Regions from separate parts of the Homo sapiens genome. Here all the other regions are linked to region 1. Evidence: fine-mapped expression QTL. A gene starts in region 1. Each other region holds a variant in brackets. All regions are shown on one strand. Distances are between the middles of the regions. Region 1 holds the start of NDUFAF5 (NADH:ubiquinone oxidoreductase complex assembly factor 5). Region 2 overlaps NDUFAF5 (NADH:ubiquinone oxidoreductase complex assembly factor 5). Region 3 overlaps NDUFAF5 (NADH:ubiquinone oxidoreductase complex assembly factor 5).

Region 1 (4,134 bases):
GAGTGACATTCGCAAGTTAGAAAAAGCCAAATCTGAGGAAAGTGCACCTCCCCTGCTCCAATCCCATCCCAATTTAAGAGTCATAAGGTAAGCACCACCTTTTGCTGGCCTAGCTTCATCTGGTAGCAATAAAGACGTGGGAGTCTAGTATTCCCCACATTCCACTCATTCCCTCATAAACACCCCAGAGTTGCTCTTAGGACTTAAAAGTTCCAAACACAGATGTACCTGCTTTTTGAGAGAAGGGCAAGGGAGAAGGGAGCGTAGATGTTTTTCCCAGGAGTCCACCTTGTACGTCATTCCTAATATGAACACCCTATGTTTATTATAAAAAGAACTCTCATATACTTTATCTTATTTGTTCTAGTCTCACAAATTGGCGAGGCCTCAATCAAGTTGTAGTCCAGGTGCTTTCTTTGGAGGGAAAGGGCTATGAGCGCACATCTTCTAAGTACACGACATCAGCAGTGTAGTACGTGCACCATGCCTTACAAGTGAGACACAAAAAATTTATTGGTAGTAAACTTCCTATAATAGACATTACCAGCCTAAGACTTCCTGAGAAAGACACCCTGTCAATCATCTGATCAGACCTGTACTTGCACAGAGCTCTGCTCAAGCTATGAGTTCAATAACTGTTTGTTGCATTATACTTGACTCCAACTTTGTTCCACTCCTGAATAAAAATTTACTGAGGCCTGAACTTGAGAATGCGTGTCCTGAAAGTAGAAACCCTCAGTCTCTGGCTCACCTGGGCAGGGAGAAAGGTTTCTCAAACGAGCCAAGACAAATCAGAAATCTTAATTTGATCTTCCTAAAACATAAGTCAGATCACTCCACTGATTAAAACAAGAGCTTCACATTCCCCTAGAGCAGTGCTGACCAAAAATCATGAGAGCCACATATGTAATTTCAAATTTTCTAGTAGCCACATAAGAAAAAAAGTAAAAACGAGAGAAATTTTAATTGAAAAATTTAAATTTATATTTAATATATTTCATGTGACCCAATATATCAAAAATAATCACTGCAACATGTAATCAATATAAAAGCTCTTAATGAGCTATTTTACATCCTTTTTTCATACTAAGTCACTATACTCGTGTGTATTTTACAACACATCTCAATTGGACTAGTCACCTTTCAAGTGTTCAACAGCCACATGTGTGGCCGGCAGTTACCATACTGGCTGGACAGTGCAGATACAGAAGAAAACCCCAAGTCCCTATCCTGCAAGGCCCTGATGATTTGGGTCCTCCTAACCTTCTCTCCCACTCTCTCCCTCTCCGGAGCTTCACTGGAGGCCTCTATAAGGTCCTTTCAGCCTCAAGGACGTTGCCGAAATGAATGCATGAATGAATGAAAGCATGTTACAAATATCCGAGGCCAGGCCTTGCGTGATTACAGTAGAGGCCGAAAGAGGCAGGGCTGCTGGTCAAGGTCAGACGGCTAGGTGGGGTGAGCTCGGGGCCTAGCCGGAACTAGCGGAGAGGAAAACAAGCCTCCGCGTCGCCCGCCCCGCCGCCCCGCCGCCCCGCGGGCTCACCTCCTCCTTCAGGTAGTCAAATTTGGTCGGCTCGGGCTGCCGGGCTGCCCAGTTCTTCTGTTTCCTTTTCAAATCCCGGTCGAAAATATTCAGGGTTCTGGGCGAGGTGCTACCGCGGGGAGAGACACCAGAGGTGACTTCCCTACGGCCAAGATTCTCCGCTGGGACCCTCGCCGCCCAAGGTCGCCGACATAAGCGCCAGAGCCCTGCCGGCCGCAGCATCTCCAGCTGCGACCCCAATTGCCGGCGCTTTTTGTGCGCATGCGCCAGCGCGGCTTTTGTGTCTACTCCAAAGATCTTCTCGAGGGAACGTGCAAGTAGTTTGGCCTAGTTCGCTTGCCATTACGGCGGAGCGTCACGCGGAGGATTGTGGGTGTGAGCCCCACGTGAGGCTTGGTAGGACTGCGGACGGTGAGTGGGGATGGACTGGAGTTGAAGAGCTCGAGATGAAGGGCTTGAGGGCGTGTGTGTGTGTGGCGCGGGGAAAAAACTAGTCTCTAACAGGATCTCTTTCGGATCTGCGAGGGGTTTTGCCCCTTCCTCCTGAGCCTTTTTCGGTCTCATTCTTCAGTCTTCATCGATCCTTTTCAGGGTCGCTTCTCGAATCAGTCTGTTAGCTGCCCCCCTGCGGTACAGGAGGTGGAAAGGAGACCCTAGTTCAGGGGCCAGCCCTGTGTTCTCCGAATTAGAGAGCGGGCAGAAGGGGAGGGTGGGCTACGGGGATGCGGGCGCGTGTCGGGAGTGAGGTCCGGTCGCCTTCCCCTCTCTCGGATTATCTGACATATAATGAGTGCTTTCCTTCTAAACATTTACAATACATGCAGTACTTCTCCTGGTTGAGGTGGTACCTACCTCGTAAGATTGCTCAGAGAGTTAAGTGCTGTAATACATCGAAAAATGTGTAAATGCACCAGCGATAGCTTCCTTTTTTTTCCTAGTTAGTGTAATTAAAAGGACTTGATTTTTAAATAAGAAATATTGCCCTTTTAATCATTTTGGGGGGGGGTTGCTTAATAATCAACGACTTTTGGCTCTTTGCAAAATTCCCATCCAGAGATGCTAAACCATTGGAGACTTTTCACAAGGGAACAATATTAATTTATACACACATATGTATATGTTCTAGTATGTTTTGGGGGAATGAGCTCACTTGGGCCTTCATCACTGGTAGAATCAGATATTATAGAAAGAAGTGATATTTATTAACTGGTGTGAGACTTTACCTGGAGACTCAAATTTACTTTTTATTTTTAAACTTTTTATTACTTTTGAAGGATGATCGAATTTAAAAAGGAAACTTTCTTAGCTAAACCTGAGTTGATTTTGGTCTGTTTAGTTAGAATGCTAGTCTTACAGAACTAAAGGCTGTTTGTTGGCAGTAGCCGGAGATAAGGAGTAAGCAGAATGAGACCAGAATGTGAAGAAACAAATGAGGCCAACGGAGGCTAGGGAATCTTTCTTTCTTACTTTTTTTTGGTAGACAGGGTCTCACTCTGTTGCCCCAGCTGGTGTGCTGTAGTGCCGTTAGGCTCACTCTAGCCAAGACCTCCCGGGTGGAAGTGATCCTCTTGCCTTAGCCTCCAAAGTAGCTGGGACTACAGGCGCGCGCCACCATGCCGGGCTCATTTTTGTATTTCTTGTGGGGATTCACCATGTTACCCAGGCTGGTCCTGAACTCCTGGGCTCAAGTGATCCGCCCGCCTTGGCCTCCGAAAGTGCTGGTGAGCCACCGCACTCGGCCTAGGGAATCTTAACTACATTTGCCTTCAATTAGTAACACATACTGGTATACAAATAGAAATTCTAAGTGAGAGCAATGGATGAATAAACATTTGTTCCCCTCCATAAAGCCCTGGGATTCTGCTTTGTCTACCTTAAGTTTATTTCTCTAAATGATCTGTCATGGAAAGAGGATATTTTGGTATGTTTCTGCTTTTTTGCATGTGACCCAGAATACGTTGGAGAGATGAAATTAGACTTGTTACCTCTATTTTATGTACACTTAACTTAGAATATATTAACTTAGAATATATTGTGAATGTGTTTTAAAACATTTAATTATTGTACTAACCATTATTACCATTAAAACATTTGTTTTATTTTTCAGTATTTGTTTTCTTCAAGCATTTGGTCGAGATTAAGAATTAAAAATGTCATCCAAACAAGAAATAATGAGTGACCAGCGGTTTAGACGGGTTGCAAAGGACCCGAGATTTTGGGAAATGCCAGAAAAGGATCGAAAAGTCAAAATTGACAAGAGATTTCGAGCCATGTTTCATGACAAGAAGTTCAAGTTGAACTATGCCGTGGATAAAAGAGGGCGCCCCATTAGCCATAGCACTACAGAGGATTTGAAGCGTTTTTACGACCTTTCAGATTCTGATTCCAATCTCTCTGGTGAAGATAGCAAAGCATTGAGTCAAAAGAAAATAAAGAAGAAAAAAACCCAGACTAAAAAAGAAATCGATTCAAAAAATCTAGTTGAGAAAAAGAAAGAAACCAAGAAGGCTAATCACAAGGGTTCTGAAAATAAAACTGATTTAGATAATTCTATAGGAATTAAAAAAATGAAAACCTCATGTAAATTT
Region 2 (4,134 bases), 39 kb before region 1:
TCCCTCTTTTACAGAAGAGGAAGCTGAGGTCAAGTAACTTGTCCAAGACCACATAGCCAGTACTTAACCATTGCATTGACTGCCTTGAGAAAGTTCATAAACAATTTTGCAGGTGAACAGATTCTGATAACTGAATGTAGATTTTTCGAGAATTATTCAAATTATTTAACAAGCCTGTACAATGCCTAGCATTGTGCTAGGCTAATGTTTCCCCAAACGAGTTCAAGGTCTTACTTGATCCTCCTTGATAAAAGGGTTACTGGACCATTAAGTCTGGAAGATGTCCTAAAATTTAGCCTGCTTTGGGAGATTCAGAATTACATCAAAGGTTCTGCGAAACCTTACAGGAAAGATATCCACATGCTTACCTCAGCTTTGCTAACCACATTTACCTCTGGAAATTCTCCTCTCCATCTCCTGTGCTCCACCTCTACCTTCTTTTGCAACACCTATAAATGTAAGAGTTATTGTACCAGACACTTAAGGCATCTAATGAGCTTGGCTTCCTAAGCCTAAGAAGTGTGATGCTTTACCTGCTAAGTGTTATATTGATACTTTGAAGAATGGTTCTCATTTCACAGCAGTTGAGTAACTAAACACAGGTACGCTAGTTAGTGGTAGAAAGGGGATCCAATGGGAGGGTGTGACTTCAGAACTCATGCTAATCTTAGCCACTACTCCACTGGGCCACCCTATATCTAATAATAGGTGAACATCTTGTCTGGATGGGAATCTACCCTGCCCCATGACATAATGCCGTCAGCTGCGCTGCAGGCCCTGCTTTGACCTCACATCATGGTTCTAGGCTTACTCTCTAAAGTCAGGCCCTTCCCTGTCTCTCAGTCCCAGCAATTGTATTTCTGCCCCATCATTCACATGCATGTCTCTTTTTCCTTGGGACCCAGATTCCTCTGAGATAGGAGTCTAGCTTTGAATCCCAATTGAGTGGCTGATCCTTAGAATTTGCAGCTGAACGTGCCTGATGCTAGCTGCCTGTTCTTCCGGTCTCCTGCTGTGCCGTGCTCACAGGGGTCATAGTGACTCTATCTGGGCTTTCCCTGGGGCTGTTGGAACCCTGGTTATTGCAGTGCCAATGCTCAAGGAAGCTAAACAGTTAGCTGAAGAGGCAGAATTCATGAACAGGAAATGATGTACAAAGTGCTAAAGGAGATGGAACTAACCAAAGTTCAAGATGGCCTGGGACAAAAAAAGAGCTGGATATGAAGGGTGACAGCTCCCAGTAGAAGGGACCCAGAAGAGTTTGGAGTGCAGGCAGTTCTGCAGGGACAAGGATTCAAGGACGGGGCTGAGCAAGTGTTGGAGACAGTGGGTGCAATCACCTGACTGGTTCTAATATGCGGCTGGAGTGTTCAAGGGTATGGTGGAAGGGAGGATGTGAAGAAAGGCTGGGAGCTCACAGAAGGTTTTGACTTGCAAAGAAGGCAGCACACTACAATCATTAATTGTACTGTTCCCTTCACATACAAGACTGAAGTCAAAATTGTCTCTGTCACTTATGTGACCTTGGAGAAGTCACAACCTAAGCCTGTTTCCTCATCTAACAAATGGGGACAATAGTACTAATATCTCATAGGGAACTGAGGATGAAATGTGAATTGAGAATGGATATCTAAGGCTTAGCACACTGCCTGGTGAGAGCACAGTAAGGGCGCCTTCAAGAGGGCTTTACCAATCCGTAACAACTGTGTACAGGTTCAAAGAAGCCTCCTTTGTGGAGAACCATGAGTGTTCAGCTGGCTCCTCAGGAAATTACATGGACAACCAGTACTTTCGTATCTATTTCTTCACTTGGCCCTCCAGAGTGCTGCCACCTGAAGCCTGAGCATTTCCTGTTCTGCAGCCAGGACTTGTCACCTAGACAAGTAACTGGGAACTTTGTGCAAAACTAAGGGAC[A/G]CTTCCCAAATGCTGAATGCTTGGTGCCTATGAGAAAATGTCATCTTCCATGGAAAATATAGAAGGCTATCCATGCTGGACATATAAGGGTCTGGGGCCCTCCTTTGTGACCCAGAAACTTAAAAATGAAAATGCATTCTTTGGCGAGGCACGGTGGCTCACGCCTGTAATCCCAGCACTTTGGGAGGCCAAGGCAGGCAGATCACCTGAGGTCAGGAATTTGAAACCAGCCTGGCCAATGTGGTGAAACCCTGTCTCTACTAAAAATACAAAAATTAGCCAGGCATGGTGATGCAGGCCTATAATCCCAGCTACTTGGGAGGATGAGGCAGGAGAATCACTTGAACCCGGGAGGCGGCGGTTGCAGTGAGCCGAAGTGGCACCACCGCACTCCAGCCTGGGCGAGAGAACAAGACTGTCTCAAACAACAACAACAAAATGCATTATTGAGCTGGGCATCGTGGCACATGCCTGTAAGCCCAGCTCCTTGGGAGCTTAAGCCCAGGAGTAAAAACAAAAACAAAAAAACCCAAAAAACCCCAGCATGCTGACTCACTTTTTAAAGATTAAGGGACCCAAAGTAAATCATGCTGTGCTTCCTTCTTAAATCTTATCCTCAGGGGAAGTCAAAGTCTACTTTGAAGGGAAAAGAAGTCCCCAAGGTCAACAGAGTCTGAGAAACTGTAAAGATGGGAGGGCTTCCTGTCCACTTTGCCTTGGGACCCAGGTTCTGGGGTCAGGCTGAAAAGCTCCTCTGAGATCATCCTGTCCAATGGCTCGCAACCATTTCCCACCTCTAACATGAGCTCCCTCTGGCTGTGACTCTCAACCAAGGAGAGAAAGGTGGAAGTGTTTGAAAAAGCCCTTCAGGAACGTGAAAGGCAGGCTGGTAGCCTCCTTTGAGACTCACCAATTAGCAAACCTGTAATTTTACAGATGAAGATATTGAGGTCAGAGAGATGGAGTCTGCCCCAGCATTAGGAACAAACAGGACCAGCACTAAACCCAGACCACCTGACTCCCAGTCCCCGACCTTTCTTTGACTTCCATAGTTTTTTATGGCAGACTGGCAAGTCTTTCTTTGGAATTCTCCTCTTCCCAATCTCCCACTCACAATCTGAGCACAAACACTCTGAGCACAAAAACAGTACACCTGGTAAGTGTTCCTGATATTCTACCACCAGACCTGTTCTGACAGAACTAGCAACGGGCATCCTGGCCAAACGTGTGATTCCTGAATGAAGAGTCTAGACACTGGCCGGGTTACAATGGCCACTTTCAAAGTGCAGGCAATTTACTTTTGCCTGGTTTTAGCAGTGACTAACAATGTACGATCAAGTCTGGCTTTAAAGAGTCCTTGTTATTTCCACATCCTTGTACTCATTTGTGAGCCTGGTAACAAGTATGCAGTGTCAACAGTCCATCCTAATGAGCTGTCGCAACTCAACAGCTACGGCAGAAGGGAACTGGCTGAAGAATCTGTGTGCAGTTATGTAGCTCACTGAATTCTCATGGTCTTCCCAAATTCTCTGATTTCATTTGGAAATTAGCCCATCGAGGCTTCCAAAAAATTTATCCTAATATTCCCAGGAAAGAAAATTTGAGGCCTACTAAACTTAATGTGGGAAGTTAGTTCCATTTCAAGATATCATGGAATCAAACCTCCAGGCAAGAGCATTTCAGGTCTGGTGTTCTCTGAGAACAAAAGTAATACAGTTTATGTTAACTTTACCTAATTGTAAATAAGGGGGCTATGTTTTATGCTGAAAATAACAACTCAGAATACCTTGCCCACCCTAATACACCTCCTGAAGACAGTGTATCGCGTATCAGTTATCTATTGCTGTGTAACAAATTACTCTAAAACACAGTTGCTTAAACCACAAACATTTATCATCTCAGTTTCTGTAGATAAGATATTTGAGAGTGGCTTAGCTAGGTGGTTCTAGCTCAGGGTCTCTCATGAGGTTGTGGTCAATGCATTGGCTGGGACCACAGTCATCTGAAGTTTGGGCCTGGAGAATTGCTTCCAAGATGGCTCCCTCACATGGCTTTTGGCTGGAGGCCTCTGCTCCTCACTTCTAGGTCTTCTCCATGGAGTTGAGTGGCCTTACAATATGGCTGCTGGCTTTCCCTAGAGTGAAGGATCCAAGAGAGAGTAAGGAGGATGCAATGCCTTTTATTACCTAGTCTCAGAAGTGACACACCATCTATTTGTT
Region 3 (4,134 bases), 27 kb before region 1:
TTATTATAAATGATTTCATTTTACAGTTGAATGTAGGAGTCTGTCTCTATCTTTGCGTTCTTCTTCCCTAGTACAACATAAGCTCCCTGAGATCAGGAACTACGTATTTCCACCACTGGCTCCGTGGTTGGCACATGGGTAGATGCTCAATAAACGCTAAGTGAAGGTATATAAAACCAACCTGTTAATGATTATATCTATTTTGTTAAATATCATTTTATAAGTGTAAATAATTTCTCTTAATATTCCTAAGGATAAGATGTATCAAAAACTAAGACATCTGATTTCTGTAACAGACATTACAGTTAAGAAAAAGCAGCATTACGAAAGCATCTGAAAGTATTAGGCCATAGTTTCTGAAAATATACGGTCTATTTAAAACCTTTAGGAGACTCACACCTGTAATCCCAGCACTTTGGGAGGCCAAGGTGGGTGGATCACCTGAGGTCAGGAGTTCAAGACCAGCCTGGCCAACATGGTGAAACCCTGTCTCTACTAAAAATACAAAAATTAGCCAGGTGTGGTGGCACATGCCTGTAATCTCAGCTACTAGGGAGGCTGAAGCAGGAGAATTACTTGAACCCAGGAGGCAGAGGTTGCAGTGAGCCAAGATTGTGCCACTGCACTCTAGCCTAGGCGACAGAGTGAGACTCCATCTGAAAAACAAACAAACAAGAAACCTTTAGGAAAAGAGGGGGTTATCAATTTGGAAGGAGCACAAGGCTACCTTCTGGGAGACTGAAAATGTTCAATATTTTGTTCAGGATGGTGGTTAAAATACAAGCAGCTGTACCTTTAAGATTAATACATTTCGCTGAATATACATGTTAACCTGAATTTAAAGAATCACATACATATCAAATATGCAGTACAGGACTCTGAATTCAAATTGTAACTACAGATTCAGTGTGACCATGGACAAGATACTTAACTTCTCGATGCCTCAATTTGCTCACCGGTAAAATTAGGGTATTAGAAAAACCTCAGAGAATTGCACTAAGCACAGAGTTAAGTGCTGCTCATATGTTGAAATCAGTGGGAAGTAACTTTTTCCAACAGAGAGGTCTAATTTCTAGTATGTTTCTCTTTTCTTTCTTGAAATGAATCATGAACACAGATTCTACAGCAGAACAAAAATAAATGCTGTATTTGAATAACATTTTTATTATTAGAGCCCGAGTGATATATCATCAGCCCACCATCATCTCTCAAGCCTTTGGATAAAGTGGCTCCTTGATTACATCAGGTAAGTCCTTGGGGTATGCTGGGGAAGGGGTGTGTGTGACTTATTACTGATCCTCTGTTATCTTGGCCATGCATGCTACAGGCTGCCAATCCCTCTATTAATGAATGAAAACTGATGACAATGGTAAGATTTCAGCTACGCATCTTTCCGTTTGCAGAGTGACAGAAGCTCCACACTCAGAGGAGGCTGCACGATAGGTCAAATGAACCTTGTTACAGATGGGCAACACAAGAAGGAACAGGGTCAGTTCAGACAGTGCCAGGGCAGAGCCAAGAAGCATGAGTTTGGCAGCTAATTCTGCCACTTGACAGGTAACTGTTCTCTTTGGCCCTAATTATTCTCACTCGTAACTTAAGCAAGCAAGAACAACAATGCTCACAAAAGACTATAAATCTGTAAGTAAAGACTAGATACTTATTTGTATAATCCTCTTTCTTTAAATCATCTTACAATTTTTCAGGATCCAGATGAAGGCTCCCCTAGGTAAGTGTAGTTCTGGATTCACAGAACATACCTTTAACCCCTCTTGCTTCCCCCATTCATCGAAATGATTTTTGATGTCAGTCTATATATATAAAAGAACCACCTCACAAATTCCCACAAAGGACGCAAGTTGAAGCTCTCTTTTAAGGAAACTGCTTCTCCAGCATCCCTTTCAAGTAATAGTTTATTTTTGCATATATTTTGCATATCTAACCTCTTTCAGAGTTTGATCTGTATCCTTCTTACTCCTTGAAGCCTCTTCCAAGCCATTACTTCCCTACCCTATTAAACACCTTCACCCTGCTGAGGCCCCACACCAGAAGGCTGTTAGCTCCTCCTAACTCCTGCTTGCTGTCTGACATCAGGCTAGTCACTCCCCTCATTCACTGAAAGGTTTGGCACTTGGCTCAGTTTTCCTCTACACTCCAGTACTGCCACCATCCTGGGTGACTTCATGTTAATAATCAGCAAGTTAAGATTTTAAAATCTCATCTCTAATCAACCACTCCATCACACCACCTCTGCCTTGATACCTGAGACACGTCCCAGACC[A/G]TTATCACTTGTAACTGCTTTACTTCCAAAATCATCAAACATCTCATTTTCTGACCATACCCTCCTGTCCCTCCAGTGTGTTCAGGAACTTCAACCGTGACCATCCCTGACCACACTGGAACCACCTGTGCTCAGCTCCTCTTTTTCCTCCCAATTTATCAGCTCACTCTTTCTTGTTCCCACTTCCCTTTTCTTCCAGCTAAGATTCTTTAACCTATTATCTCAATTATACTCCTAGAATTATCTTTTACCTTTGTCTTTTTGTCACTTTTAACTAGCAAACCCCCAACCCAAACTAATTCAACTATCCGATTTTCGTGCCTGGTCCTGAGCTGCCACCTCCTGTTGATGGTCAGTTCACCTTCTCATTCCCTATAATGACTATTTCAAACGGTTCCATTCACTTCTCAAAACTCTGACCCTTTCATTCTTAGCATATATTACTTCCAGTTTGACAAAAAAAATAGACCCACAAGATGGGAACTTCTTGTTTTCAAACATAAACACCTACATCCTTTGGTGCTACCTCTTCTCCCTTCCTGCTATAACTTTGCCTCTCCCCTTACCAAGGTCAACCCCTCCACTGGCCTTTGTATTGCACCCTTCCCACCTTCTCAGACACCTGTCATCATCAATTATCTTTTCTCTCTCTTCTAGAGTCACCTCTTCTAGGAAAGCACTTAGATTCTTCTAGTCAGCAATTAAATAAATTCAAGTCTTAGAAAAAAAAAAACAACCTCATCTCAACTTCTATTCCTCTCCTCTCTTCTGACACCTGTAACCTTTCCATCCTTCACCTCTTCTTCACCACCAGACTTCTTGAAAGAACAGCACATATCTGCTATCTCCAGTTCCTCACTTTCCACTTACTCCTCAACCTACTCCTCTTCTACTCTCCTCACTCTAACAAAAGAGCTCTCACCAGGGTCACCAATAACCTTCTTGTTCCTAAATCTAGCGGACTTCCTTTTCAGTTCATAGTTTGCTTTTAACGCTGCTAAGTGCTCCCTTTGTTTTGAAACATTCTTTCTTTCCTTTGGTTCAGGCAATTCTACACTTTTCTGGTGTTTTTCTGGAACACCTTGCTGGCTACTCCTTCTCAGTCTCTTTGTAGGCTCAGACGTCGACTACCCACCTGCTAAAGCCTCAGTACCAAGCCACTTTGTCTGCTCACTCCATGTTCTTATCCTAGGCAAACGCTTTGAATGCCACCTATTCACAACTGACTCCCAACTTTTTAACCAAGCCAGTAGCTTCCTCTGAGCTACCTACCCACATACTCAACTGCCTACTTGACATAACCTCTTAGGTATTTCAAAAGCACTTCAAACCCAATGTATCCAAATGTAAACTCAAGGGCTGTACCTGCCCACACCTGGTATTCTTCTATTGTTTCTTCTATCAATGAAGGACACCATCTCTCTATGTGAGCTAGAAACTCAGCAATTAAGCTTCAAATGTCTTTCTCCTTCATCTGCCCACAGCCAATCCACCAGCAGGAACTGCAAAATTTATCTCCTAAACATCTCTGGGATGAATCTGCTTCTCTTCATCTCCATTGCCACCACCTTAGTACAAACTACCATCATCTCTCAGCAAGCTATACTGAAATTAATCTCGTGACTAGTTTATCTGCCAATCTACTCTTTTCAAAATCCAAGTCTGATACTGTTACCTCTCTAAGATGCCTCAAGGGGCATTTTAAGATAAGGGCAAACAATTTTAACAAGGCCTATAAAGTACTTCTGCATTTGATCTGTGACTCACGTTGACCCACCAAGGTCATCACTTAACTCTCTCCTTCTTACTCCCTGAACACCAGCCAAAATGCCCTTCTTTCAGTTCTTGCTATG

What was found. PIP is the estimated chance that this variant, and not a neighbour inherited with it, causes the effect.
Region 2: its variant is the best candidate, but not a certain one, in a credible set for the expression of NDUFAF5 in cerebellar hemisphere (GTEx, PIP 0.55).
Region 3: its variant is the best candidate, but not a certain one, in a credible set for the expression of NDUFAF5 in visceral fat (GTEx, PIP 0.54).

Annotation. Positions count from the first base shown.
Region 1 is chr20:13,782,703-13,786,836 of GRCh38, reverse strand. NDUFAF5 (NADH:ubiquinone oxidoreductase complex assembly factor 5) reads right to left here and starts at 1,809. Exons shown (of 11, transcript NM_024120.5): 1 at 1,547-1,809. The coding sequence starts at 1,768. It overlaps ESF1 (ESF1 nucleolar pre-rRNA processing protein), which reads left to right and starts at 1,918. Exons shown (of 14, transcript NM_001276380.2): 1 at 1,918-1,957; 2 at 3,654-4,134. The coding sequence starts at 3,697. RefSeq lists enhancers at 899-1,588, 1,584-1,873.
Region 2 is chr20:13,821,237-13,825,370 of GRCh38, reverse strand. NDUFAF5 (NADH:ubiquinone oxidoreductase complex assembly factor 5) reads right to left here. Exons shown (of 11, transcript NM_024120.5): 11 at 3,791-4,134. Among named protein-coding and RNA genes, the nearest start is that of NDUFAF5, 38 kb to the right of the region's middle. The variant A/G (reference allele first, on the strand shown) is at 1,916.
Region 3 is chr20:13,809,493-13,813,626 of GRCh38, reverse strand. The region is part of intron 8 of NDUFAF5 (NADH:ubiquinone oxidoreductase complex assembly factor 5); the gene reads right to left. Among named protein-coding and RNA genes, the nearest start is that of NDUFAF5, 27 kb to the right of the region's middle. The variant A/G (reference allele first, on the strand shown) is at 2,282.